3 separate regions of the Homo sapiens genome follow, and all the other regions are reported to be linked to region 2. The links are microRNA targets in miRTarBase. Many come from high-throughput screens and were not tested one by one. Region 2 holds a microRNA gene; each other region holds the end of a gene's coding sequence.
The links. The annotated mature microRNA hsa-miR-5187-5p reads UGGGAUGAGGGAUUGAAGUGGA and lies in region 2 at 3,143-3,164, opposite strand. An mRNA with a match to its seed (bases 2 to 7 or 8) in the 3' UTR can be bound and repressed. Matches are read on the target gene's strand: a 7mer-m8 pairs with bases 2 to 8, a 7mer-A1 pairs with bases 2 to 7 and ends in A, and an 8mer does both.

Region 1: miRTarBase lists NIPA2 as a target of hsa-miR-5187-5p. Seed matches in the 3' UTR shown: 7mer-m8 at 10,297-10,303 and 7mer-m8 at 10,198-10,204.
Region 3: the mRNA of ZFP91 is a reported target of hsa-miR-5187-5p. Seed matches in the 3' UTR shown: 7mer-m8 at 4,037-4,043.

The regions. Positions count from the first base shown.
Region 1 is chr15:22,866,561-22,877,395 of GRCh38, reverse strand. It overlaps NIPA2 (NIPA magnesium transporter 2), which reads right to left. Exons shown (of 8, transcript NM_030922.7): 8 at 9,012-10,835. The coding sequence ends at 10,549. CYFIP1 (cytoplasmic FMR1 interacting protein 1) reads left to right here. Exons shown (of 31, transcript NM_014608.6): 27 at 2,125-2,197; 28 at 2,752-2,846; 29 at 3,667-3,905; 30 at 4,424-4,571; 31 at 7,204-10,344. The coding sequence ends at 7,368. Among named protein-coding and RNA genes, the nearest start is that of NIPA2, 33 kb to the right of the region's middle. RefSeq lists enhancers at 3,857-4,151, 3,477-4,152.
Region 2 is chr1:161,224,754-161,230,358 of GRCh38, reverse strand. MIR5187 (microRNA 5187) reads right to left here and starts at 3,173; the gene lies at 3,098-3,173. It overlaps TOMM40L (translocase of outer mitochondrial membrane 40 like), which reads right to left and starts at 4,299. Exons shown (of 10, transcript NM_032174.6): 1 at 4,223-4,299; 2 at 3,755-4,004; 3 at 3,404-3,471; 4 at 3,009-3,101; 5 at 2,622-2,723; 6 at 2,370-2,475; 7 at 2,051-2,173; 8 at 1,855-1,931; 9 at 1,542-1,644; 10 at 1-1,403. The coding sequence starts at 3,869. The coding sequence ends at 1,264. It overlaps NR1I3 (nuclear receptor subfamily 1 group I member 3), which reads left to right. Exons shown (of 9, transcript NM_005122.5): 9 at 433-690. The coding sequence ends at 562. RefSeq lists enhancers at 2,560-2,739, 4,254-4,323, 4,784-4,893.
Region 3 is chr11:58,611,395-58,622,302 of GRCh38, reverse strand. It overlaps ZFP91 (ZFP91 zinc finger protein, atypical E3 ubiquitin ligase), which reads right to left. Exons shown (of 11, transcript NM_053023.5): 6 at 10,565-10,699; 7 at 9,975-10,025; 8 at 9,463-9,541; 9 at 7,960-8,074; 10 at 5,488-5,587; 11 at 753-5,107. The coding sequence ends at 4,597. It overlaps ZFP91-CNTF (ZFP91-CNTF readthrough (NMD candidate)), which reads right to left. Exons shown (of 13, transcript NR_024091.1): 6 at 10,565-10,699; 7 at 9,975-10,025; 8 at 9,463-9,541; 9 at 7,960-8,074; 10 at 5,488-5,587; 11 at 4,735-5,107. Among named protein-coding and RNA genes, the nearest start is that of CNTF, 5.8 kb to the left of the region's middle.

The DNA.
Region 1 (10,835 bases), not on the chromosome of region 2:
GAGTAATTTATAAAGAAAAGGAGTTTATTTGGCTCATGACTCTGGAGGCTGGGAAGTCCAAGATCAGGCAGCCCATCTGTCAGGGTCTCATGCTGCTTCAGCTCTGGGGGAACAGAGAAGGGGAAGCGGGTGTTGCCAAGAGAACAAACATGAGAGGCAGCCTTGCTTACAACAACCTGCTCTCGCAGGAGCTTATCCATTCCCACAAAAACTAACCCAATTGTGGGAGAACTGACCCAGCCCTGTAAGAAATCCATCACCTCTCGGACCACCTTCCAACACTGCTACATTGGCAATTAAATTTCACCATGAGTTTTGGCAGGGACAAACCACATCCAAACCATAGCCTCTGTGTATGTCCAAGCCTGAGGATGCCTGTCTGGTCATTGGCCTCAGGTCAGGGAGGTGAGACCCGAGCTTTCTTAATGGGGAGACAGCCTTGTGGAATTGATAGAGATAGTGTCAGAGACCCCTTAGGGCTGGTTTCTCTTCTGTCCAGCTGCCCTTTTTGGAAATAAGATAAAGTGTCAAAAGCTTTTCTTTACATCATTTCTTTTTTTTTTTAGACTGGAGTTTCACGCTTGTTGCCCAGGCTGGAGTGCAGTGGCACAATCTTGACTCACCACAACTTCTACCTCCTGGGTTCAAGTGATTCTCCTGCCTCAGTCTCCCGAGTAGCTGGGATTACAGGCATGTGCCACCACACCCGGCTAATTTTGTGTTTTTAGTAGAGATGGGGTTTCTCCATGTTGGTCAGGCTGGTCTTGAACTCCCGACCTCCCGCCTCGCCCTCCCAAAGTGCTGGGATTACAGGCGTGAGCCACTGCACCTGGCCTGACATTCTTCACATAAACAAACTCTTGTGGTTCTATAATTATTTATGTCCATCCCAGGACTCATGGACATAAATAATTATAGAACCACAAGAGTTTGAAGCAGGCAGAATGGAATTTACTAGGATAATCTCTTAGCTTAAAGGCACGGTTTCTGTGCATTGTCATGGCAACAGTTGGCCCTCTGTTGGCTTCTGGATGGAGTGTGATGCTGCATTAGAAACAGGGAAAGAGAAGCGGAGCAGATGGTGTCTGGCCGGCGTCTGGCACTGGATTGACGTTGATGAGTACGGAAAAGTCTGCCTTTCTTCCTCTTGGTCTTAGTTTTGCCATCATCTCTGGGAGGTCCTCAGAAGTTAAAATCTCATTGTCGGTATTTCTTGATTTTCTGATAGCTGTTTCTTTGTTTAATCATTTCTTTTACTCCTATGGGACTTTAAGATTTCAGCATGGCTGTGGGGTCGGAGGCACTGAAGGCTCCATCACCTTCTGCCTGCTCCGTGGGGGTGGTGAGCGCACTGTGGTCTGAAGAGGCCCTTCCTGGTGGCCTAAGAGCCCTCACCTCTAAAGATGAACAGCAGTTGCTCAATTTTTGACCATCTTTGGGTTCTTGGTGGATTTGGGGTGTTCTGCTGTCCTCATGATCCTGGAGGTACATTTTCTTTATATATATATATGTTATTCTGGAGAACGGACCTTGTGTGGTTTTTATTACCTCTGTAAAGGAGCTTGTGACCCAAGAGCAGTTCGGCATGATGGCCTAGAACTTTGTTTTGGGCTCTGTAGGGAATGAGTGGATGTGGACACCAGGGTAGGCCACCCCTACTCCTTCCATCTCCTGTGTTGTTTGCAGGAGACGCCCCTTCCTTCTGTCAGTGTGGTGGGATCTTGTCATAAACTGTGGTTCTTAAGAGCCTGGTGGCAAATTAGCAGGGAAGGATGGGGCGAGAGCTTTTAGACAGGTAAATCCTGGAAAACAGAGCACACATTCAACACTGGGTCTTACCTGTGTCTATATTTACATTAATTAAATGTAACTAAAAATAAAATTCAGTTCCTCAAGTGCCAAGCCACATTCCAAGTACTTACTAGGCATGCATGGCTGGCGGCTGCCGGAATGGACAGGACAGACGGAAGCATTTCCATCATCCCAGAAATCTCTTGACAGAGATAAAATAAACTTACAGAGTTTATTTTATGCTAAAAGGCAAAGAAGTTCTTGGTTTTCAGCACCAGATTGCTCTCTGGCGAGATACCCTTCCTAGCTTGACCCTCTCTTTCTCTGCTCTAGTCTTTAGAAGAAGTGTGTGACCTGCTGCACGCGGCTCCTTTCCAGAACATCTTGCCGCGAGTCCATGTGAAAGGTGAGCCTGCTGACCCCCACCAGGGAGTCCAGACTGCCCTCTGTGGGGGTGGTGCCCACTGTATGCAACCGGAGAGCTAAGGACCAGTGCAGATTGTGGGTTTGGCGCCTGTTCAGTCATACCCAGGGGTAATGAGGAGTGTACAGAACCTAGTTAAATGAAGATTGAGAAATAGAGCTGCAATGATATGATGTCTTAGAATTGCTTCCAAATATCAATAGCATGGGAGCAGGGGGAGTTGGGTATATAAGAAGCAGAGTGGCCATGAGTTGATAATTATAGCAGATGATGGGTACAGGCTCATTGTGCCATTTTCTGCTTTCGATTACATTTGGAATATTCAATAAATGAAAAGTGAATATTGAGCAGAAAATTGGTTCTGCCGGTTTGAATTAAAATATTAAATGAGCCAGTTCTGTAAAATAATTTTCAAAGAGAATCTGTATCCATAATGTTAACTTAAAAATCTTTTGTTTTTTAAACAAATGTAAACCTTTGCAATTACCGTTTCATACAAAGGAGCAGAATATAGTAAAATATTTTTTCTACTGCAGAGGGGGAGAGACTTGATGCCAAAATGAAAAGACTAGAATCAAAGTACGCCCCGCTGCATCTTGTCCCACTGATTGAAAGACTGGGGACCCCTCAGGTAACGTGTACCGTGATGGCTGTGGCTGTTGCAAGCTGGGCATCCATGCCAGGCCAGGTGGCCTGGTTGGGAGCCAGACTGGAAGGCATCGTGAAGTCCAGCGGCTGCGTGGCTGCTCAGGCCTCAAGTGTTGCAAGTGGGGTGTGCACCAGGACTGCTTCCCTGGGTGGTGGGAGGATTCAGATGAGCTAACACCTGGAAAGAGCTTAGCACATCACCTGGCACGTAAGGCTTACACAGAAGACATCACTTTCACTGTCCAGCCCTTCATGAAGAAGGCTTTCCCATAGGTGTTTAAGAACAGAAGAAATTAGGCCAGGAGGCAAGGTGTCAGGGTAGAGTTCTACAGTGATCCAGCTGCTTATGCTAAGTCAGGGTTTCTCAGCCATTTTGGACCAGATAACTCTATGGTGGGGGCTGGGGCGCCCTGTGCATCGTAGGATGGTTAGCAGCATCCCTGGCCTCCACACTAGCTGCCAGTAGACCCGCTCCACCCAAAACATTTTTCCAGGGCCGGGCACCGGGGTTCATTCCTGTCATCCCAGCACTTTGGGAGGCCAAGACAGGAGTTTGAGACCAGCCTGGGCAACATGGCGAAACCCCATCTCTACAAAAAATACAAAAATTATCCGGGTGTGGTGGCATGCACCTGGTCGCTTGAGCCTGGGAAGTCAAGGCTGCAGCGAGCTGTGATTGTGCCACTGCACTCCAGCCTAGGCAGCAGAGCAAGACCCTGTCTCAAGAGAAAAGAGACATAGAGGATGTGGAGTAGCTGGATGCCTGGAGGCCCACGGCATTCCACGGCTTGTCCTTTCTGCAGCAAATTGCCATCGCAAGAGAGGGGGACCTGCTGACAAAGGAGCGCCTCTGCTGCGGCCTGTCCATGTTTGAGGTCATCCTGACACGGATCCGGAGCTTTCTGGATGACCCCATCTGGCGCGGGCCTCTGCCCAGCAATGGGGTCATGCATGTGGACGAGTGTGTGGAGTTTCACAGACTGTGGAGTGCCATGCAGTTTGTCTACTGCATTCCCGTGGGGACACACGAGTTCACAGTCGAGTAAGTGTGTGCTGAGAGCAGGACAAAGCCCCAGAGGAGGGGAGGAGCTGTGGGGGAGGGGAGGCGTGTTAGGCTAACAAGCAGCCAGCCATGCTCAGGAAGTGGACCAGAAACTCACTGAGCGGCTTTTAAGCCTCCTGTAGTGGGGATTCTTACTTGATGCCAAAGAGCTGACTCAGGACTCTAGTATTCAGGGAGTCTCTGAACCCACGGCAATTGTATGCACGTTGGGCGTGCATTTTTCTAGGTGGGAGGTCCATAGAGTCATTCATCACAGAGGGGATATGATCTAAAAAGGGACAGGAAGCAGCACACCAGAAGAGCCCAAAAAAGTTATTTATCAAAACCAGGGAACAGCCACCTGGCTGCCCGGCATTCTCTTCCTGGCTGTGGAAGGTGACTGTGTAGGCACAGACAGTAATGCAGATGGCTTGGTCACTGACATCTGGAGACAGACTGAGAAAAGACTTCATAACGTATCACTCATCTCCCATTCTGTTTCTGCTTCTTGTTCCTAGGCAGTGCTTTGGTGATGGGCTACACTGGGCTGGCTGTATGATCATCGTACTTCTTGGGCAGCAGCGGCGTTTTGCTGTGCTGGATTTCTGCTACCATCTACTTAAAGTCCAGAAACATGATGGCAAAGATGAGATTATTAAAAATGTGGTATGTGGATGAAAATCTCGCACCATCTATGGACCTTTTGCAAAAGCATACTTTCTTTGTGTTATAAGTTCTTGTTTCTGGCAATGTTTTTCATCCTAGTACGTAAGGTGCCACCAACAGAAACTTTCTTTTCGTTCCCAAAATGAATCTAAATATAATTGGCCAGTAAAGCAGTCTGGCAGAGAAAATACTCATTGTTCCGTTTTCCTTCTCAAGGTACTTAGATTTACTTCCAGTCTTACAGGATCTGCATTGTCAGAATATTGGCAACTATAGTCTTCGGGCCCCTGGAAGTCTGTGCTTTCTTGGCTGCTTTAAAGGCCTTTTGTCTTTGTTGCTTTATGGATCCCTCATAGTTGAATTCTGGAAAATACTCAGCCATTATCTTTGAAATATTTCAGCCTCCTTTCCATTCTCCCTATTCTTGCCATTCAGGACTTCAGTTAAACATATGTTAGACCTTCTCATTCTATTCTCCACATCTCTTTGTTGTATCAGTTTTCTTTTTTCTTTCTTTTTTTTTTTTTTTTTGAGACAGTTTCGCTCTTGTTGCTCAGGCTGGGGTGCAATGCCACGATCTTGGCTCACTGCAATCTCTGCTGCCCAGGTTCAAGTGATTCTCCTGCCTCAGCCTCCCGAGTAGCTGGGATTATAGGCACCTGCCACCACGCCCGGCTGATTTTTGTATTTTGTAATTTTGTATTTTTAGTAGAGACTAGGTTTCACCATGTTGGCCAGGCTGATCTTGAACTCCTGACATAAGGTGATCCGCCCACCTCCCAAAGTGCTAGGATTACAGGCGCGCCCAGCCCTGTTGTATTAGTTTTCTATTGCTTCCATGACAACAAATCACCACAGGCTTGGCAGTTTAAATACCACTGATTATCTCACAATTCTCTAAGTCAGATGCCTGAGTTCAGCCAGGCCCAGCTGGGTCCTCTGCTCAGTCTCATGGGGCCAGTGTCTGAGGTGCTGGGTTCACCCTGGAGGCCTTCAAGCTTATGCACAGTTGGCTCAATTATTCCTTGCAGCTGTAGGACTGGGTCCCCCTTCCTTCTCATGCTTTCCAAGTGGCCCCCTCCAGCAATGGTGGGTTGGGCAGTCTCAGCCTCTAGTCTTCTGCCATGTCTCTCCTGCCTCCGGCCAGAGAACATTCCCTGACTGTGACTATATTGAGCCCACTGGACAACCCCAGATACTCTCCCTGTTCTACAGTCCAGTCTTAGCCACACCTGCCCAGGCCCCGTGGAGTGGAGGCAATGCAGTCACAGGCTCCAGGTCATGGGCCTCTCTCAGGGGCCCTTCTGCCTCCCACTCCTCCATTTCCGGGGCTCCCAGAGCTGTGTCCAGATACTGTATTCATGTGTCTTAGTTAACTTGTTTACTTCAGCTCTAATCTGCTGAGCTTTTACTCTGAAAATATTATTAGTTCACTTTTTAAAGTTCAATTAGGTTCTTCAAATCTTCTTGGTAACTGACAGTTTTATTGTCTTAACTGAACTTTTTCCATCTCTTATTTCTTTATCCAATTCATGTATTCTATATTCTGTGTGTTTTCCTTCTAGTATCTGAAGGCCTTGGAGGTATTTAAAACTTTGCTGTTTCCTTGTGTGTTGGGTTATTTGGGAGTCTTTATTTAACTGGAGTTAATTTAGATTGCTTTCCCCCAAGATGTGCATTTGTATCTGCCCATCTCTATGGGGTGCTACCAACTCAGGGCCGCTTTAGCCGAATTGGAGGTCCTGGCTTCACTGGGGAGTCTTCGGTGTGGTCCCGCTTGCTTACGCCCGGGCTGCTCCTCACCCCACCGCCGCTGTTGGCATCTGCCCCTGAGGAGGCCCTGGCTTCCCCCTTACCACCTGCATAGGTAGAACCAGCTTTTCAAAGCGTTTTGTTTGCGTGTATGTTCTTAATTCGTGTTCTTTATTCCTGTGGTAGCAGGAGGGTCTGTCAGAGTATCCCGTCACAGTATTTCCAAACTGGAAGTCTAAAACTTGTGTTAGTTGACTGGCCTTTCTCCACTGACCACATCATCTTCATCTGGAGATCCCCAGCTTTGAGCAGACAGTAGGTTCTTAATTGCCAATGTGGAAGGAATAGGCCTATCAATTGTGCGCATGAATGAATCTACAGCAGCATGAAGCCAACAGAGGGATTCTAAATTCAAAATATATTCATCCTTCCAACTGTTGCATTAAAGAGATGGTATGTGGCTGGGAGTGCTGGCTCATACCTGTAATCCCAACAGTTTGGGAGGCTGAGGCAGAGGAGGATTGCTTGAGCTCAGGAGTTCAAGACCATCCTGGACAGCATAATAAGACCTTGTCTTTACAAAATTAAATTTAAAAATTAGCTGCGTGTGGTGGTACACGCCTGTGGTCCCAGCTACTCAGGAGGCTGAGGTGGGAGGATGTCTTGAGGCTACAGTGAGCCGTGATCATGCCACTGCACTCCAGCCTGGGCGTCAGAGTGAGACCCTATCTTACAAAAAAAAACCCAAAAAGAACAGTATGTGTGTCAATTCCGTTTGCTATTATTTTTCTGAGAAAATATAAGAATCCTGACATTTTGAAACATGAAGAATAAATGTTGAAGTGTTAATAGTAAAACATCCTCACTTTGATGGTTGTAGCCTTTGAAGAAGATGGTGGAGAGAATTCGCAAGTTCCAGATTCTCAATGATGAGATCATCACCATCCTGGATAAGTACCTGAAGTCAGGCGACGGGGAGGGCACGCCAGTGGAGCATGTGCGCTGCTTCCAGCCGCCCATCCACCAGTCCCTCGCCAGCAGCTGAGGGCACGCGCTGCACTCCGTAACTCAACATGGCATGCCTTTCTCTCCGTAAACTATTTAGTGAGATTTTTAGGGACTATTTTTCAGTATCTCTGTACCTGTTAAAGGGGGTGCTTTTCGATCTAAAAACTTAATTTTATAAAATTGACTTATTTTTCTAGACTAAAATTGTATATGCTTTTGGTAATTAGGAACTCTTGAGAATATTGGCTGCTGATTGTTGCCATCACGTTCCTACAAAATTGTTTTTCTATGGGATGTTCTGGCAGCTGTGTCATAAAATGCTGCTGGGTTCATTCATTCATTCCATAAGAAACTTAATACCAGCAAATGCATTAAATCCCTTGCCAGTTACCATTAACTGTAACTATTTAGCTTTTGTTTAGGGATCTTTCTGATGGTCTTTTATGAGCAATCTTAGTTCTAAGTCATTGTTCCCATCCCTTTTTTGTGTGTTTCAGAAAATAGTGAACTTGATTCCCCTGCTTCCACTAAATCCAGTTGTGACAAAATCTAACGTGACATCAGATCGAAAGGTTATAGAAATAAAACTAATGAGATCTATTTGTGTTCATTTATTTACTCTAACCCTGTGCTGCCTGGCTTGGCAAGGAACTCTAACCTGAACTCACATACCAGGCCAGCTGGGATGGAGGTCACCTCTAAGGCTGAGGTGGGATGGGACCGTGACACCATCCCATATACCGCTCACCTCAGCACAGGTTTAGCTTTATATTTAGGGTTCCGCAGGCAAATGAGGTGTAAAACGGCCGTGTTGGCTGCTCCAATCTGGATATGAAGAGGCTACTCAGTGCCTCTCTGTTACCTGTGCCCATGACCTGGAGGAAGCCAGCAATGTGGGAGGAGATCAGTCAGGCCCAGTGGGTGCTGCACAAAGGGACCGGGAGCACCGAGTCCAGCCTTCAGCTGTCCCCGATCCACAGGGCTCACATGGCTGGAGCTGGTTCACATGATCTGTCAGAATGAAAAACAATCGGTCTAGACTACCAGTAGAGTCACGAACATGTTTGAGAAACTAAAGCCATATTTTAAAAAGTACTAAGGCAATGAGGTTCTGAAAATCCTAACTAACTGAATGGAAAAAGATGCTATGCCTGTTTATTGTAGATGAATACTACAGATAAACACAAGTCCAGCATGATTAACTGAACTCACTTTATATTGTAGCCTGGCAGTCATTTTACATTATTTGGAGTATTGCAACCTTCACCAATTTTAAAATTTTCTATGGATGCCAAGTTGCCATAAAAAGCAGGCCTCGCCTACTTTTCCGGAGGCCTTTGGAAACTGTCCAGAAGCATATGATGCACGGCACAGAAAAGTAGTAAGTGTACGAACCATCCTGTTACACTGCCAAACTCACTCAAGTGACATGAAGCCTAACAAACAATTATTCTTTCTTTATAAAAAGTTCCCTAAAAATGCTTTTGGTAATGTGAATTAATAACCCTGGGGCCAGCATTCTGCTGCAGATTTAGAGGTGGTAGCTGTGCTTATCTTAGAAACTACAGAATAGGATGAAAAATTATGGTAAAACTTAATCAATTACCAAGTTTTATAAGGCTTAATTATATACCAAATATGTAATACCTTAGGTATAAGACAATCTCAAGTGCTACAAAATGTTAAATAAGAATTTATTATTTATTAACCTATGCATGTTCAAATGAGTCTCTGTCCTCAAGGGGGAGAAAACTGGTTCTTTTATGTACAAAGCACAGATGTAGGTACAGTATATAAACAGATACGTAGTACATCTGTAGTATTAAAATGGCATGGGAGGAGGCAGTTAGAAAAAACATCTAAAACAGCTCCTTAGAAGGCCAATAATAAAGTTGGAAAAAAGGGAGTTTCCACGCAGCCAGTGGTGAGCTGCATGGGATACCAGCACCATTGGCAGGGGAGGCCCTCGGGGAGTGATGGCTTGGCGCTGGCGCACCACTGGGTAACCTCCAGGCAGGAGCCACAGGCTGGAACAGGCGAACACTTTCTTCCCATCACCTAGGTGGAAATTAATTCTGCCAATACTTTTTTTTAAAGGCCAGTCAATGGTTATGAGTGGATAGGTTCAAAGCTGAATGGAGTTCATTAGACCTTTTTTATTATTCTACCTTTTCTGCATATGTTTGCAGTTTTCCATCGACTTCTTCATAAACAAACATTTTCTAGAAACCAAAATATGTAGTGGCCCAAAGGAGCTCTTAAGCAAAGTACTTGGTACAAAGAGACCATATTCTATAAACATGTTAAGTTTGTTCTAAGCATTCAGACTTTTAGAATAAGAACTTCATTTCAACTTTTTATTATAACATGAGCTAAATTTAAGAAACAACCCTAGTCTTCTATTTCCCAGAGCTGTTCAAAGTCTAAATGACAATATAACTCATTATGAAAATATACTGAAAAGTACAAGAGCTGATGTAAAACGGTAATCAAGGTTCCAGGCATCATGGGATTAGGGTAACTGAAGAATAAACCCAGCCAGGCTGCAACAGCAGGCAGGATGTGCTGGCTTGATGAGGTGCTAAGGCCATCGAATGCTCAGAGGAAGCCGGATTCACGGTGATCATCTCAACCTGAGAAATCGTTCCTTGGGGTGATTTCTGCCCTTTTTTTTGTTTTGTAAGAAAGAGGTTCCTTCATTCAGTAACTTAGTTTTCCCTTAATAAATATTTCAAAAATAAAACCAATCATCATCAAACAAACAGGAGCCACTTTTGTAGGTAAGGTAAATCACAGGATAATGTATTGGGATAACTCTGTTTTTTTAAAATAAAAAAGCCTTACATGGTCAGGGATTGATGGAGTGGGGATGACAAATGCACATTTCAGACTTTCATCACCAATGAAAAAATAAAGCATTTTCATAGACTTAAAACTGTCATTAGTGCATTCGGCTTTTGGAGAAGGGATGAAAATGTAAAATACTTCTACAACAATAAAATGTTAATAGAAATCGTCATGTGCTGAGGTCATTTTAGTGAGCTACCATTGTTTGTTTAAATACAAGAAAAGTAATTTCTTGGTCCAAATTAGTGAAATCTTTAAAAAGATTGCCTTTAAAGAACATTATTTGAGGACAATGTTTTTTCAGACACATTCTGATGATATTCAAATTCACTTCATAACAATCACAGATTAACCTTTAATTACACCTTTCTTAAAAAGCTGTCAGATTTCCATTTCTTCGGGAGACATTTTCACCAGTGTGTTGTTCGATTCCACAGGTTAAGCTTTCTTCATTATTATTAAGAACTTCATACATATTAGAGAGATTGCCATTCATTGCTTTCTCGTCTTTTCGAAAAGACACAGGCAGACTTGCTAGACTAAAGCTGACGTCTTTAAAGGCATGCAACAAGAATATCCCCACAATGATTGTAAAGAAGCCACTCAAAGTACCAATGACATCGTCAACAGGCATATCTTGCCACTCCTTAAAAAGAA
Region 2 (5,605 bases):
CTGTGATTTATCCAGGCTCTGAGGTATGCACCGCTTCTGTTTTGCTCGTTCCTCCAAGAGCTAGTTTGGCCAGAAAGGGGATGCTTTATACCATAGAACACATCCACCTTCTAGAACCTGCTCTAGAAGGCCAGGCCCTCAGATTCCACATGGTTGGAGTTCTGGCCAAGTCTGGAGCTTTCTTCACACTCGGCTCTCAGAGCTCTGGGTTCAGAAAAAACTGAGCATGGTGAGAGAAGACAGTGTCAGACCGAGGCCCCCTGGAGGACCTTTGGAACCTCTGATAGTCTGTCATACCAGAGCATGATTTTCTCTAATGTTCAGACCTGGCTTCACTGAGGAATAGTTCAGGGGATCAGGGCCTAGAGACAAGACTCCCAACTGCCTTATTTCCCTCCTGTTTTCCTGGCAACCCCACTACTTCCTCCAAAGGTTTCTGTATGCGAAGTTGCTAGGCCTGCTGGCTGAGCTCCGGAGCATTAATGAGGCCTACGGGTACCAAATCCAGCACATCCAGGGCCTGTCTGCCATGATGCCGCTGCTCCAGGAGATCTGCAGCTGAGGCCATGCTCACTTCCTTCCCCAGCTCACCTGGAACACCCTGGATACACTGGAGTGGGAAAATGCTGGGACCAAAGATTGGGCCGGGTTCAAAGGGAGCCCAGTGGTTGCAATGAAAGACTAAAGCAATAACTGCCTCTTCATGCGGTCATGGGGATAGTGGGGGTGACCATAGGAACAAAGTTGTTCTCTGGAAGCACAGAAGATGGGAAGGAGGAAACCTCAGGGCTAAGAGGTAAAGAAGCTCCTTCTGGGAATGGGTGGGCCCCACTTCCTGAGACCAAACATCTAGCCCTTCAGCCCTACTTTCCCAGCCTTGGGAGGCTCTGGGATGGAAAACAGGATGGTCAGCTAATCCCATGCAGGATTAACCAAAGGGAAAGGAAGAAGGAAGCCTGAGGGCAAGGGGTGCCGGGGGAATTCAGCCATACCCCTTAATCCTTCTCCCTTAGTCCACAGCCACAAGAGCATGGGGAAGGTGATACTGGGGCTGGTAGCAGAGGGGGGATCCTCAAACCTCTGCCTCATCAACTGCCCCTGTGGCAGCTCCAGTTCTGAGGAGGGCATGGTCCTGTCCACCACTCTGCTCCTGGGTCCTAGAGATCACCCAGCAAGGTGGGCTCTGAAGAGGGGCCTAGTCTTTGGCCCTAGGGCACCTGACTCAGAGGTTCCAGCTGCTGTGGGGGCTGGCTCTGGACAACCTCAGCCCACAGTGATGCTGAAGCCACAATGGAATCTGTTGCGCCAGTGATTGAGGAAGGCTCCAAGGGCTAGGGTGACAGGCAGAGGGGGCATCTTCTTCTCCAGCACAGCACCTACACACCAGTTACTATCCACCAAGCCTGTTGGGGGAGAGAATACCCACTAGATTATTTAACAGGGATTGGAGGAAATAGTCACCAGAAGTAAGGTCGAGCTTCCCTCCCTCCTCTGCATCCCCCATTCCTCAGGATAGCCAAATGTCTCCCAATAACCCTCACCTCTAAATACCATGTTGGCCTGGGGCAGAGTCAGGTGGTAACCAAAGGAGAATGTTGTGTCTTGTAGCCTTGTGTTTGCCTCAAACTCCACTCCAACCTGAACCTGAGAACCATGGGCAAGGATGAGAGAGAGATCAGTATCAGTGAAGACCAGAAGGGTCCTGATGGGGAATCAGCAGAATGGAGGCATGCATGTAAATATATACACAGCGTGGTAGGAAGAAAAATAGGTCAGCAGGGCGATAGAGGTCCAGATGAACAGAAGTTCATGACTGACTTGCTGACAAGGAGGGAATGAGATCAGAGGTCTCACCTGTTCATTTGCCCTGTGGTAGTAACTTGCATGGGCCCCGCCTGATCCCACATTCAATGTAGCTACCCAGTGTACAGCTGTAAAATCCAAAGTACAGAGGGGAAGGAGTGTTAACTGTAGTATGACACAGGCCAGGAACCCCAGAAAAGTCCAGAATTGCCCCCCACCACCACCACTACTTCACTTCGCCCCATACCCGAGTACTTCCCAGCCAGTGTCAAGATGGCCCCCTCTTCGCCTGGCCGCCGGTGATAAACTAGCTCTCCTCCCAGCACCAGCCGATGAGTGAGGCTCTGCAGGAAGTGAGCAACCATGATCACTGTGGGGGAATGGGGAGACATGGAGTCAGTCATAGAGACAATATCCAGACCTGCTCCCTCACTCCCAATAACCGCCACCCCAGCCTGCCCAAGAAGTTCCTTTTCTAAACTCCAAACTGTACAGAAGATGAAGAGGCATAGTAACATTAGCAAATGGGCCGCCAAGATAAAAAGAACCCTGTCCCAGTTCCTCACCCGACTCCCCAATCAGGTCAGGATTTCCTAGGGTCAGAGTGGCTGTGTAGTCATCTCCCCGATACTCGCCATCAAACTGCCATGTCAGGAACTTGGCCTGCTGCGTCTGGGTGGCAAGAGCAAGAAGTAAAATCTCCCTCCCTCTTTATGATCATTATAGACTCTGCTCCTCCTTCCAAGCCCTCAGAGCAGGAAACCCGTGGAGGAGAAAGAGGAAGTGCCTCAGGGGATGGAGGCAGGAACTGTGGTCACCTGGAAGACAGCCTTAGCTCGGAGCCGCTCTGCCAAGAGGAGCAAGACCTGGGCGTTCAGGCTGCCACTGCTGTCCATATCCCCTACCACAGTGGGGAACACCTGTGGAAGGGTGTACACAGTAGTAAGGCTGAGCCGGATGGCACCACTCAGCCTAAACCCAAATATAGAACTTCATTAAGAGTGCACAGCGCCCCCTGGTGGAGTCACAAAGACACACTCTGGGCTCTTCACAGAAAATGTTTCTCTACCCTCTCTCATTCAGAAAAGACACAGAGAATCAGGTTACGGCCCATTCCTCCCCATAACACACACAATTCCTCTTCCTCCAGACCTGGGTCCCAGATTGGTTTTTAGGGAGATGACCCAGGTGTGTGGAGCCCTCACCTCAGTGGGACTGAGCTGCCAATCCCCTGCATAGGCCGCATGGAGGTGATATCCCGGCAAGCCCAGGGCACTCATGTGTATAGTGTGCGCCACCTGAGGAAAAGAGGATTCAGTGGAGAAAAGCGCATTCCTGCTCCACTTCAATCCCTCATCCCACCCTTAGTCTTTTCCCCATCCAGAGGGCCTCTCAAGAATCCTAAATATTCCAACATATACAGAGAAGGTCATCGGATTAAAAGCAACAAGTCCCACAGGCACGGAGGTAAAGAGAACCCCACATCCTCCCTCATTTGTCCCACATAGACTGGCTAGGGCTGGAGTACAAAGGAAAGGAGAAGATGATCCAGGGACAGGAAAGGGGGAATAGTAAGGAGGGGCCAGAGAAGTGGGAGCACCTGGAAATGGCTGCTCAGAACCTTGTTGACAACGAGCTTCACTCCCTCCATCTGTGCTGGGAATACATCTGAAGGGGGTAGGGGAAGGGAAGGAATAAGCACAGACAAAGAACCCCTACCCCAAAAGATAGTCTCCCCTTTCAATCCCATAGGGAACACTTTGGAGGAATTAACCTCCTTTCAAGTCCTGCAATGAAATGCTCCACTTCATTTGGGCACCTGATCCTCCCTGAGGCTGCATGACCCAGCTATGATCTCCCCTTTCCTGCTCCCATCGCCGGACATCCGGCATTCAAGACCCTCCACTCCTCTGCCCCTTCATCCTGAGACACCCAAGTGCCAAGTTCTCACCTTTGCATAGACGGTGCAGCTCATCGAAGCTCCCAGGGTTGGGCAGGGGTTCCTCTCGGCGGGGGCTCCGGCGGGGCAAAGTCCCCATTGGTGCCAGGCCCAATGTGTTCCCCATTTTAGTCCAGAGGACTGGGAAGAGCCGAGGTTAGCCTGTGAAAGGACGCTATTGCCCCTTTACCCCCCAACGGGCCCCACCCCCCATTATCCGGCTCCCCAGCCTCAGAAACTTCCACATGGTCCGACGCTACACCTGGAACAGGAAGAGTAGGGAAGGAGAGCACTCATGGAGAGACAACCCTAGGCACACTCCCGCCCCATCTTTGATCTCTCACCCCCACTTGTCACCCTTGTCCTCTCTCCCTTTCTCTGATCCTAGCCCCCACCACAGACTTCACCTAGCTCCCTAGCCTCTCTATTCTTCATTCCCAGGCCCCAAGACCAGGCCCGCAATGGTGCAGTATCCCTTACCATCTCAGACCATCATGCTGCCCCTTTCCCCCCGGCACACCCCGGTCATCTTGATGGGGGCAGCCATCTTGAGTGATGGCAGAACTGCAGCTTCACGCTGCATTCTTAGCGTGGCCGTAAGCGCCATCTTTGAATCTGGCAAAGAAAGCTGTCAAAGACCCAACCCAACCCTGATTGGGCCCCGCCCAATCAATGAAAAAAAAAAAAAAAAAAAAAAGCCTCGCTATTTACCATGGGCCAATGGGAAGGGAGGAAGAAAATGAGTGGCAGGTCTGACGGCCCAAGAGCTTCAACCCTGGAGCTGCAGAGGCGGGCAGGACTTGATTGGTGGCCCCTTAGACTTAAGTGGAAGGCTTTAGATCACTAGGCCTCTCCAAGGTCGGAAAAAAACTTGTGAGCGTACAAGACACTAGAGGGAGCATCTTGTAGCTTGGGCCACTGAAGCTCCTTCCACCCATGTAGTTTCATCCATGAGAAAAGTGGAACTACAGCTTGTAGACTGGCATAGTGTGAAGGGTGGCAGAAAGAACGATTATGAAGACTTCTTTGGAACCCTGGTTCATTTCTATCGCTCCCTTCTCTCCAAAGAACCCATGGGAAATCCTCCTCACAGCCCTCCACAGCACACCTCCAAATGAGTACTACTCATTAAGCGCAGCACTCCCTAGAACAGGGACCCACCCTTCTCTTCTGGAGGTCTACATCTCTCGAAGTCCCCGCTCTTGACCACTTGGTGGAATGGAAACGGGTGTGAGAGTTTGGCGCAGAGGAGTAAGTTCTAGCAGAACTATTCGCTGAAACAGCTGCTTTCTGTATTTAACCCTTCCTTCCCTGAGTCCCAAGGCAGAGTTGGCAAATAAAATCTAGGAATATGGAGCCTGGCCCCCAAAGGCACTCCATCCCAGGACCAGGGACAAGCCAAAGGGCTGACCTCAAGCACTAAGCGCTCCACAGGGGAATAATTGAAAATGGAGTAAGAGTTCTTGGTCTTGGAGGGTGAAGGGTGGGAGGAGGGAGAAGATCAGGAAAAATAACTAATGGATATTAGGCTTAATACCTGGGTGATGAAATAATCTGTACAACAAATCCCCATGACACAAGTTTACGTGTGTAACAAACTTGCATATATAGGCCAGGGGCGGTGGCTGATGCCTGTAATCCTAGCACTTTGGGAGGCCGAGGCGGGCAGATCACCTGAGGTCGGGAGTTCAAGACCAGCCTGACCAACATGGGGAAACCCCGTCTCTACTAAAAGTACAAAATTACCCGGGCGTGGTGGCGCATGTCTGTAATCCCAGCTACTTGGGATGCTGAGGCAGGAGAATCCTTGAACCCGGGAGGTGGAGGTTGCAGTGAGCCGAGATCATGCCATTACGCTCCAGC
Region 3 (10,908 bases), not on the chromosome of region 2:
GTTCATTCAATAAAATTGTTATTGACACAGCTGCCATTTATTAAGTATCTACCATGGGTCAGTCAGTAAGCTAAATACTTTAAAGCAATTCCATTTGATCTTCAGAATATTTCTGAGGTAAATGTTATTTCTCCATATAAGAAACTGAAACTTCAAGAAATAACATGCACAAAATCAAGTAACGAGGCTTGAATTTAAATAGAAGTCTGATTCTATAGTTGTCTCTCCCACTGACTTTCCAATTTCATTTTCTGTTTAGGTAGTTCACATCTTGTTCAAGAAACAAAGGGTGTGTGAAGTCCTTTAAAAACAGGATTTTTTTCACTCCTAACCTTACGTACTTTTTAAAGGTAATTTAATTTATACTTAAAAATCAAGCAAGGAAGCATCTCTAATTTCAATCACGGTGCCTTCCTGGTAGCTACATAGGAGGAGGAAGGTACTGTTTAGGCCTGTTCTCTTCCAAAGAACAGGAAACACCCAACGCTAACTTGGTAACATTTCTAAAGCAGTCTCACTCAAGTGACAACATGCTTTCCTTTTTTCTCCCCTACCCAGTCATACCACATGCTTCTTAAAATAAGAGAATGAGCTGGGCTTTGAAATGACAGTATAAAAGTTAAAAGGTACTTGGAGGGTTGTCATTCTATTGCATTTAACTTAGAAAATGATGCTTATTGGGTAAGGGCTAAATGAAATAATTAGCTTTCATTATTTATATCATAGATATTGCCAATAAGCTGAAACACATACCATCTTAGAAGCAAATTTATAAAAGTAAACAATAAATGGGAGATGTAACAGAGCAGCCTGGGCAGCTATCACAGCATGGCTTTTGGAAGGCAGAAGGATTATAGTTTTTTCTTTTTTAAAATAAAAATCAGTACTTGATATAAACATTCAATTTTGAGAAGAAGTATTAATATTAAATGCTATCAAGGTTTTGTCATTATCAGGGTAAAATTAACCTCACATAATCCTTAATTTTCCATCTACTAGGTTAATTAACATATGGCCAGTTTTCCTAGGAGGCAGTTGTCAAAACATCAAGATTTCCAAGTTTGCTGAATAACAGAATCATGTCATTTCAGCATTAGAAATCAAGAACAGTCAAAAATTAACCACCTGATTCTCAACAAAAGCAAACAATAGTATGCCCCACATAACACCTGTTCTGAGGGCATTTGGTTTGCTTAGCAGCATCACATGTTTCACCCCTAGGATAACTGTAACTCAGTACAACCAAGGAAGACAAGTTGCTTCCATGAAGACAACTTTTATTTTTCTTCTTTACATATTTATTTTTAATATGCCTTACCTAGAATAAGAGAAAACAAAGATTTGAAAAGCAAAGTATCCCTTTTATTATAATTTCTTTTTACATAACCTTTTCAACCTATATTCAGGTAACTACCTGTCTCTCCCATGAAAGGAGAAGGGTCCTGCACATTACAACAGGCAAAAAAGGCTTTTAAGAAATAAAATATTTTAAATTGATCCATTACATTTGTTCAATTTTCTTGAGTACATTGGAAAGTGGGAAAAACACAAAAGGAGAAAAAAATGGTATTTCAAACAACCAGACTATAATAATCTTAGTTAGATTGGTAGTACACTCATTATACTTTTTCCCCAAACAGGTACAAAGGAGGTTCAAGTGCTCTATGTGGATGCTAGTCTATACCTCGATATTTTTATTTTACTCCCAGTACTCCCACGGCCATGGCCAGTGTTTGCCTAAATTCTCTGAAGCATATCAAGGAGTCTCAGTTACGCAAAACAACCTTGGGCAACCACAAAGAAGAGGGATGCACATCTCCCAGAAATATTAAATAGCTGTATCTCAACTACAGTTTCAGAATTTAGAACCACCAATTCAAGATGGAAATATGCAGTGGGAAGAGTTATTAAAAAGGTAACAGAATTTGACTAAGAGCATGAAATGTAGAACTTTAAGATTAAAAGAGCTCCCTGGAAGGACAATGAGGCATATGGAGCAGAAGGGAAAGCAGGGAAACGGCTGAGATAGTTTAATTACACCAACTCTACTATGCAGCATCCCTTTATCAAAAGGAAAAATATAAAGTCTATAAAAAATATTTTAGTATTGCAAACTGCTGCAATAATTTATTGTAGGCAAATGGTAGCTATAAAGAGGGTCCTTGACCCCTAAAAGAAAAGAAAAAGTACAGCAAGTTTCTAATTAGTAGAACTAACTAGTTGTTTTTTTGTTGGGAGAGCGGTATAGGAAAGGAGAATACATTTTCTCCCATCTCAGAAAGATTTTTAAAAATGCAGTTTGCTTTTGTGTAGGTGGCTAAAATATCTGATGACTAACCACTGCAAATGAAATTTACGGAGACAAAGGATAAGTGTGACAAAAAAGCTAAGTGTGGAATATAGATGCTAGTTAGTCAAAAAGTGTAAAAGGGACCTGAGAGGAGGACAACTTTTTTGTAGATTCATCTAATCAATCTTGTATTTTCAAATCTAGTCAATATACCAAAGTCGACTCCAAACCATGTTGGCAGGAAAGCATATTCTACATCCCTTCTATCTTTATTCCATTTTCTATCCCCATATTATGGAGAAATGGCAAATCTGCAACACTCTGAAAAGAAACAATAGCGCATTTGAGACTGGTGATTGTAGGTGTCTCACTCTCTGTTCCCTGGCATCCCAAATGCTGACACTAGTTGGTATAAAGTAAGCCTCTTTCAGAAATGACATTTTGTTACTCCTCTTTTTGGGAAAAAAGAATTCTTTGAAAAAATTGATAAGCCATGTTTGTGAAACACAAACTGTTCTTTTTTTTTTTTCCAGCAAAACGTCATTCTTTCCAAGAGCCATCATGCATTTCTGACAATAAACAATGAATAGGGTAAGCCTTCGATTCTAGCTTCTGAGGCACACAGGATAGGAATTACTCTTTACCTGAAGATGAGCCAAAATAGGATTTGGGGCTTCTGGCGGTATGACCTTGTACAAAAACACTACCTTTTCTCTCCAGTGAACAGCAATAAGCAATCTATTCCCCAACACAACCTCTATCCCAAGGAAATTGTGATGCCCAGAATTTTAGGTGAAAGCCAAAGCAATTATTATATAGGATTATTAACTTTGGCTATTGAAGTTTTTCCTCTTCAGAAGTGTTACTAAAGGGGAAACAGAGCAGTTTTCTTTGACTTAAAATTTTAGGACTCATAGACTTTGTTCCTTCACTAACAGCAGTGTCCTTCACTAACAGGGAGCTGGAATGAACTGATAAAGCAAAGCAAGAAACAAAAAGCAAGGAGCCAGAGATGGGCCCCAAGGGAAATGTAAGGAAATGGTAGGGACAAAAAAAAAGGAAAAGAAACAAATTCACAAGAAACAATCATCTATCTGTAATTTAGATTCTGAACAACCCTCCTCACCCTCTCAAAATTCTTAAGTTTCAACACTGTAAAAATCTCAAAGAGCATACTAGTTACCATGAACCTAACATTCTTCCCTAAAAAGGCTTCCAAAAAAGCACTAGGCTATTGTAGTGATTTTGTTAGTGCTGAGGACCAGCTTTCTTTAAAAGCCACTGGAGAGCTATGATTTCAGAGGCTGGCTGTGCTTCTTCAACCCTATGTCTTGCCTTCAAAGTACCTGTTATGGAAGGGATCCCATGTCAAAATAATCTAATCTCTCTCTCCCAGCCCCACAAAATATAGCAACAAAGACTCCAAAAAAAAAAAATCAGACTTCCTGTTAATAAATAAGGAATCTCAGGTTCCACAACACAAAAACACACATGTTCAAAGTGCAAATTTCTGCCATTAGCCTGGGACTTTTCTCATCGTCTCACTGATACAGAGCCCTGTCTTACAGTCAAAGAGACTGTAGAGGGCAGCCCCCTCCCTATTGGGAGCCTGCTTCCAAGCAAGTGAGCACCATTGAGAGCCATATGGAGGGTTGGGAGGGGGACTGAGATGCTGGGATCAAAGAAGGGGGAGGTGGTCCCCATATATCCTTCCTTTCTGAAACCCAGGGGGGAATAAAGGAAGAGGGGATGAGAGATGTGTGCTGTTTTAACAGCTCACCCTGCTAAGGGGCCCTAAAGTGCCAAGTCAAGCTGCCAGCCTCCAGAGATTAGAATTCTATGGTATTTGAAGATAAGTGTGCCGCAGGGGGTAGGAGCCAGAACCATAGGGCAGCAGTAGAGGAGGAGAAGGGATTTAGAAGACAGTAATATATGATTAAAAGTTAAAAGCTGATCCAGAGCACATCAGAGTTACAGGTTGGAAAGGGGGATCTGCCGATGAGCAGGAAGTCTGCTGATGGCTGGAACCGAGTATGAGAATAACCCTCACTTTAAGAGCTGCTGCTGCTTCTTTTTTGTCTACCTTTCTGGTAAAGACAACATCAATTTTATAAGGGGAGCAACAGAGGGAGAACAGGGGATGGGGAGGTGGAGGGTGTATGTATGTGTGTGCTGTGATCCACAATGGAAAGAGCAGGCCCTTCAGTTATTTCACTAGATTTTAAATGCTTTAGATTTTTTTTTTGTCCTTTTTAACTTTTAAATACAAAGTCTGAGCTGTCCCATGCCCCAAGTCTTCCTGTCCACTAAGGTCCGGCAGAGTCTGAATCTTCAATCAGAACCTCTGTGGTAGCACCGAGTATATCTGAGTTCATAACCAGCCCTTCAGTGCCTCCACTGCTGCCGCTTCCCACAAAGATCTTCCCATCAGCCATCAGGCTCACCCGTTCCGTCCCACTGCAGTATGACTTTGACATCCCTTCAGCTTCTAACAGTAGGCACTCTCCAGAGGTTGAGTTTCCCAAGGGCTCAGGAAGAAGAGGAAGACCCTGACCATCTGAAGGCTGCGTCAGGGACTCTGGGTTAGTGCCCAAGATATCTGTGCTGGTGATGAGGGCGCCTGCATTGGCAGCCAGAGCTTCTGCAATCAGCACCTCAGGGTGGCTTTTTGCCTTGTGTGCCACTACGCTGTCCTTCTTCTCAAATTTTTTGCCACAGATATTGCAAGAAAACTGGTAGAAGGAGTCTGCATCATGTTTCTTCATGTGCCAATTAAGAGATGCCTTTTGTCGACAAGTAAATCCACAGATCTCACATCTAAGGAGAGGAGAAAAGGAAATGGCTGATCCAACAGAGAAATAAAGAGTGCTCTTATTCAGGATCAGGGTTAGAGTTTAGAGCATATATATACATACACACACACACACACACACACACACACAATAATCAGTAACATACTTCTTTTGAAGGATTGGGAAATGTTACTAGATGGAAAACTAATCTGATCTTCTTCTGTTTGCCTGAAAAACAGAGGGAAACTAAGAAAAAGGCTACTAACTAATGCCCCCAATCAATATCCACTCATTTATTTGATGAAAGTAAACAGCAGTGGCAACTAATATGTTTGTAAAGCGGCAAACCTTCAAGTAGGGCATATATCCTTCTCACCCAGATGTTCACCAGTAAATAATACTCACTGTAATGGCTTCTCGCCAGTGTGAATCATCCGGTGCACTGCCAGATTGTGGGAACTCTTGAAGGCCCGAGCACAATATTCACAGATATAATCCCTTTGATCTATGAAGAAAATACTGTGGTTAGTGTTCTATTTAGATACCCTGTAAATATTTTCCCTTACAGTAAGTAAGCAGATGATGGGGCAGGCAATTTAGAGTAAAAGCAATGCTGTTTTCAATGTATAAACACTTTGGGTAAACAAAATTTAAAAAAGAAAAGTATTGCTTTAAAAAAAATCCAACATTCAGTAGCATAAGGACCTGTTTAAAAAAAAACAAAAACAAACAGAAAAACTAGATAAAAATATAAGAAATGGAATCCTAATCTCAATTTTACCACTAATCCAGGTCTTGGATACCAAGTGGTTAGCAAGTAAACAACTATATTTTCCATATATTTTACTCCTTTAAGGAGTAAACAATTTTTTTCACAGACAATGAAAACTGAATGATTACACAGAAAGAATCTGGCATTCAAACAAAACAAAAACAAAAAACAAGAACTTGGCACTGTATAGAAGAAAACTGATCTAAAGGTAATCATACCCTGTTTCAGGTTTAAAAAATGTTACTCAAGATAAACTTTTCTCAAAAGACTGGAGTTGCTGCTATCAAATATATGTAAATAACACCTGTACTACTTTACCTTATTCTCCTACCCATCTTCTGCACCTTTCAACTACCTCCCTTTGTCACTCACAACACCCTCAACCCCATTATGCAGGATTTCTGATGAATGTGGTAACACGGTGTGGAATCTATGAGGAGGAAAAAGGAGCATTGTACTTATTCATTTCTTTACCGTGTTTGGGAAGCCCGTGCACAAAGAGATGCTCTCTATATATATTTGTTGAATTAATGACCACTACATTTTCTACTCCTTTTGCTTCAAATTACCAGAATTAATGAGAATGAAAACATGAATTTAAGTTAAAAGGTGAACAATATCCAATTTAATCTTATACTCCTTTCCAAACAGCTTAGAGATCACCTGGATAGCTTATTAAATGTATATGCTGATTCAGCAGGTCTGAAGCAGGGCCTGAGATTCTGTATCTCTAATAAGAACCCAAATGATGTCAATGCTGGTTGGTCTGTATTCCATACTTTATATAGCAAGGTCTAAAAACGCACAGTTCTAACTTAGGAAACTCTTAGCATCTCCCAGGTCATGTCCACATTTCCAGTTCCATAGCAGGACAAACCTGTGTGGGGCATCTATTTGCTAAATAAATGACATTTGCAAAAAAAAGTCTGTATATACTAATTTGCAAAAGTAAAACATCATAAATTGTATTAACCAAATATAAATATTTGAAATGGACTGAATTTATAAAAGTTTTTCATACGCTTTTGATATTTAACTAAAACAATCTAAAGTGGCTGTCAGAAACAACTTTTCTATGGCATAAAACAGTATTAACAGGGAGCAGAAGGAACAGAGAAATTGCAGTACCTATCAAGAAACAGAAATAACTGTTACTTGTGGAAATAACTCTGAAGAAACATGGTATAAGAAAACTGTAGACTTTGGAGTGATTAAGATTCAAGTTCAATCCTGGTATTGTGCCAGGCTCTGTGTAGTCAATAGCATTTTATGTTATCTCATTTCATCCCTACAATAACTGATATTGGTATCCTTAATACACAGAGAAGGAAAAGTGAAAAGAGAAGTTAAGTAACTTTCCTACAGTAAATGAAGGAGTTATTTCATTTATCAGTATGACCTTGGGCAGGAGACATATTTCTACAACTAGAATTCCTAGACTTACTCTCTAAGACTGTTGAGAAGGTAATGTGTAATTATCAAGTGTCTGGGACATACTCAGTGGTATGCACCCAATTTGTTCCTATTAGGTACACTGCACTGAGATGGTCAGTGGTTACAAATAAATTGAATTTGAGTCTATTCTATAATACATATTGCAGACACTCAGCAACTCTTTTTGACAGTTCCTATGGGAGTTTACATGCAAATTCAACAGCTAGACTTCACAGTTTCAATAGCAGCAGAGTATTATGCTTCTCCTAAAAACTAGCTATGTGACCATGGGCAGGTTACTTAATCCTGCCAAGCTTCTAGTTTCTTAGCTGTAAAATAAGATCAATATAAACAAATTTAGTGGTGTTGAATAGACTAATTAGCAATAATATACATAACGTATTTAGTCCACAGTTGATACAGAATAAATGCTCAATAGAAGATCATTATCCCGGTCATAGAAGTTCAAGAAGTCAAAGGATAAAAATTCAAAAGTCCTAGTCTGCCCATCCCTTGTAAAATTTGTCTTACTACATTTTATTTTCACACCTTTTCCCCGCACTTGACTATAGAATCTTTTAAGACTTATGTTAGAAAAACGTTATCATTACCAACATGCAAAACTAAAGCACAGTGCAATTACCTACTTGATAAACACATTTTAAAAGTACCTGTATGATGTTTGGCATGTCGCAGAAGTTGCTTCTGAAGCCTGAAGAGTCGTCCACAGGAGGGATGGGGACATACATATTTCTTCTTCAGCAAATGCTGGTATTTAATGTGGTGCTAAAACAGAGAAAGTGAAAGGGGCGAAAAAAAAAAAATTAAGGCTTCCTGAAAGTACTTGTCTTTGCTAAGTCAAAAGTACTGAAGGAAAACCAAATACTTAGATTTCACACATGGATAGTGAGGGAGTATAATAAAGTGGCTAAGAACATAGGTGGAAATACACAGACCTGGTTTCCAATCTGGGTCTGTCATTCACTAGCCTTTGTAATCTTAGGAGACAAATATTTCAAGCTCCAGTTCTCATTTGTAAAATGGAGGTAACAATAACCATCTCAAAGTGTTGTTATGGGGATAAGAGATTATGTATTGTACTGTGCTTTAGAGCAGCAAATGGCACACAGCAGAGGAGGAGCGGCTATTGTTATAACTGAACCACGATCCAGAAGAAGGCCTTCGTGTCATGTTATATTTGTTGCTGAAGATCAAACAGGTATTTCCTAAGCAGTATTTCACTTTCACGTTTCCTGCCAGACCTAAATATAAGTGGTACGTTTACTCATCAAAAATAATAATAATAATCTACTCAAGAAAAATAAAAACAAAACCTCAACTAAAAGTCTTTTATTCATTCTACACAGTACCCAAGAAATCACAGGTTTGAGTTCTAATTTTACTTTTTTTCTAAATCACTTTAAAATAAAATGTTACTCTGTATTTACACCACATTGGGAATTACTGTAATATTGAAAGATTCCAACGAAAGTTCTCTATGTGGGTTCAGATTCTTAGTCACCTCTTTTTAAACAGGAGGTGCTATGAATTTGGATGTGTTCACCACAGTTCATGTGTTGGAAACTTAATCCCCAATGTGATAGTGTTGGAAGGCGGGACCTAATGGGAGGTGCTTAGGTCTTAAAGGCTCTACCCTTATATAAATGGGTTGATATTATCATTGGAGTAGATTTGTTACAAAAGCAAGTTCAACCCATTCTTGCCCTTCCACCATGGGCTGACACAGTTAAAAGGCTCTTGTGAGATGTGGGCACCATGCTTTTGGACTTTCCAGTCTCCAGAACCACAAGCTAATAAATAAATATATGTTCTTTGTAAATTACCCAGTCTCAGGTACTCTATTATAGCAGCACAAATGGACTAATCATGATTAACCCATTTATGCTGGAGGTTGCAAATGTATTTTTGTGAAAAATCAGACCTTGGTGATGACCTTGAACAGTAGGATATAAATAACTTGCCCAAGCTTAGCATTCTAATAATGGAACACTAGGCATAAATGGGTTAAAGTCATTTTATGTTTAAAGAAAGACTTTTCTTGACATTACATGTCAATGATAAAGCCTACACAAGCCAACAAATTAAAGTCTCGTGGTGCAAGAACAAGTAATGGAACACAACCTGAAAGGCTCTTATATAACAACTTCACTGACCTGCAAATAGCGAGGATGGGCAAGGACAGTTCCACATCCTTCCATCTCACAACGGACATACTGGATTGGAGGCTTTTTTCTATTATCAAAATGCAGAAGAAAAGTTAGCAAAAAAAAAAAAGTGGTACTCTGCACAGTGGCCTCTGACTTAAACTGTGCTATTGGGAATAGCTATTTTATAGTAGGAAGAATTAAAATCTCTTTACTACTATACAGATTACACAGAATTTGTATTAGAAGTAACCAAGAATTAGCAAATATTTGACAGAATTAAAAAGTAACACAAATAAACTAATGACCCCCCAAAGGTAAAGTATTAAGATTGTTAGAAATTTCAAGCTCTTACAATGAAAATAAGATCATAACACCTGTGCATCTAGGACATTAGTGAAGTTGCTTTTGTGAAATTTTTAAATAGCCATTCCTGCAGGATTATCATGAAGTCTAAATTTGTGAGTAAAGTGCCTGGTACTGGAATAAGGTGTAAAACAGTAGGGGTAAAAATTCCTCACCTCCTTTTGGGTAAACGTGGACTTTTGTCATCTTTTCGTCTTCTTCCTCTCCTGTAATTGAAGACAGGGTAACAGTAGACATATTCTGAATCAAAACTACACAGTGAAGGCTGGCTGAAGACACACACACACACACACGGCCAAAGAACAAGTGGCAAAGGATAACCAAGAATACATAAAGTCAAAGATATATCTGGCAAATCAAGCAAGTAATTTTACCCTGAAGTAATTTCACTTTCAAATCAGTCTGTAAGACAGATTAAATATATACCTTCCATAAACTATGCAATACTATGAAAGACTTAGAAGAATCTCAATGTATTACTTTTAGAGTTGCTACCATGTATCATCTAAAAACACTAAGATTAAAAAATACCTTCTCCTTGCAATAGAACTGAAAAACCTAAACATTTTTTTACTAAGAGTCTCTCCAGTGAAATTGTCAGCTGCTTGAGGCCAAATTTTTTTAAGTTAAAAAATACATATTTTGAAGCATGTATACGTCAACATCCTTCCTCACACTCCCACTCTTTTTTCCACTAGTCGTTCAAAATCTGTTAGATTTTCATTTTTAATAATTGCCTACTCACTTCCTTGGAGGTTCCTCATCCTCTCTAATTTCATTCTCCTCTTCTTTCACCTCCACCTCTACTTCCACTTTAATTTCCTTCTTCTCCTTCTCTTCTTTTACCTTCCCTGATTTTCTCCGTGGCTTTGGGGTTTCCCTGAAAACACAAATGCATTTCAATACTAGACAAAAGATCTTTTCAAGGAAGACTATGACAACAAATTAAAGCTTAGAGTTATCACTGATTTGTTATAAAACTACCTTCCTCAGTTCATGAAATGTGATTTCCTACCAATCATCCTCACATGCATAGTAATGATCCAAATATATGTATATGTTGCTCATGGAATGAACCCTCCCCAGACT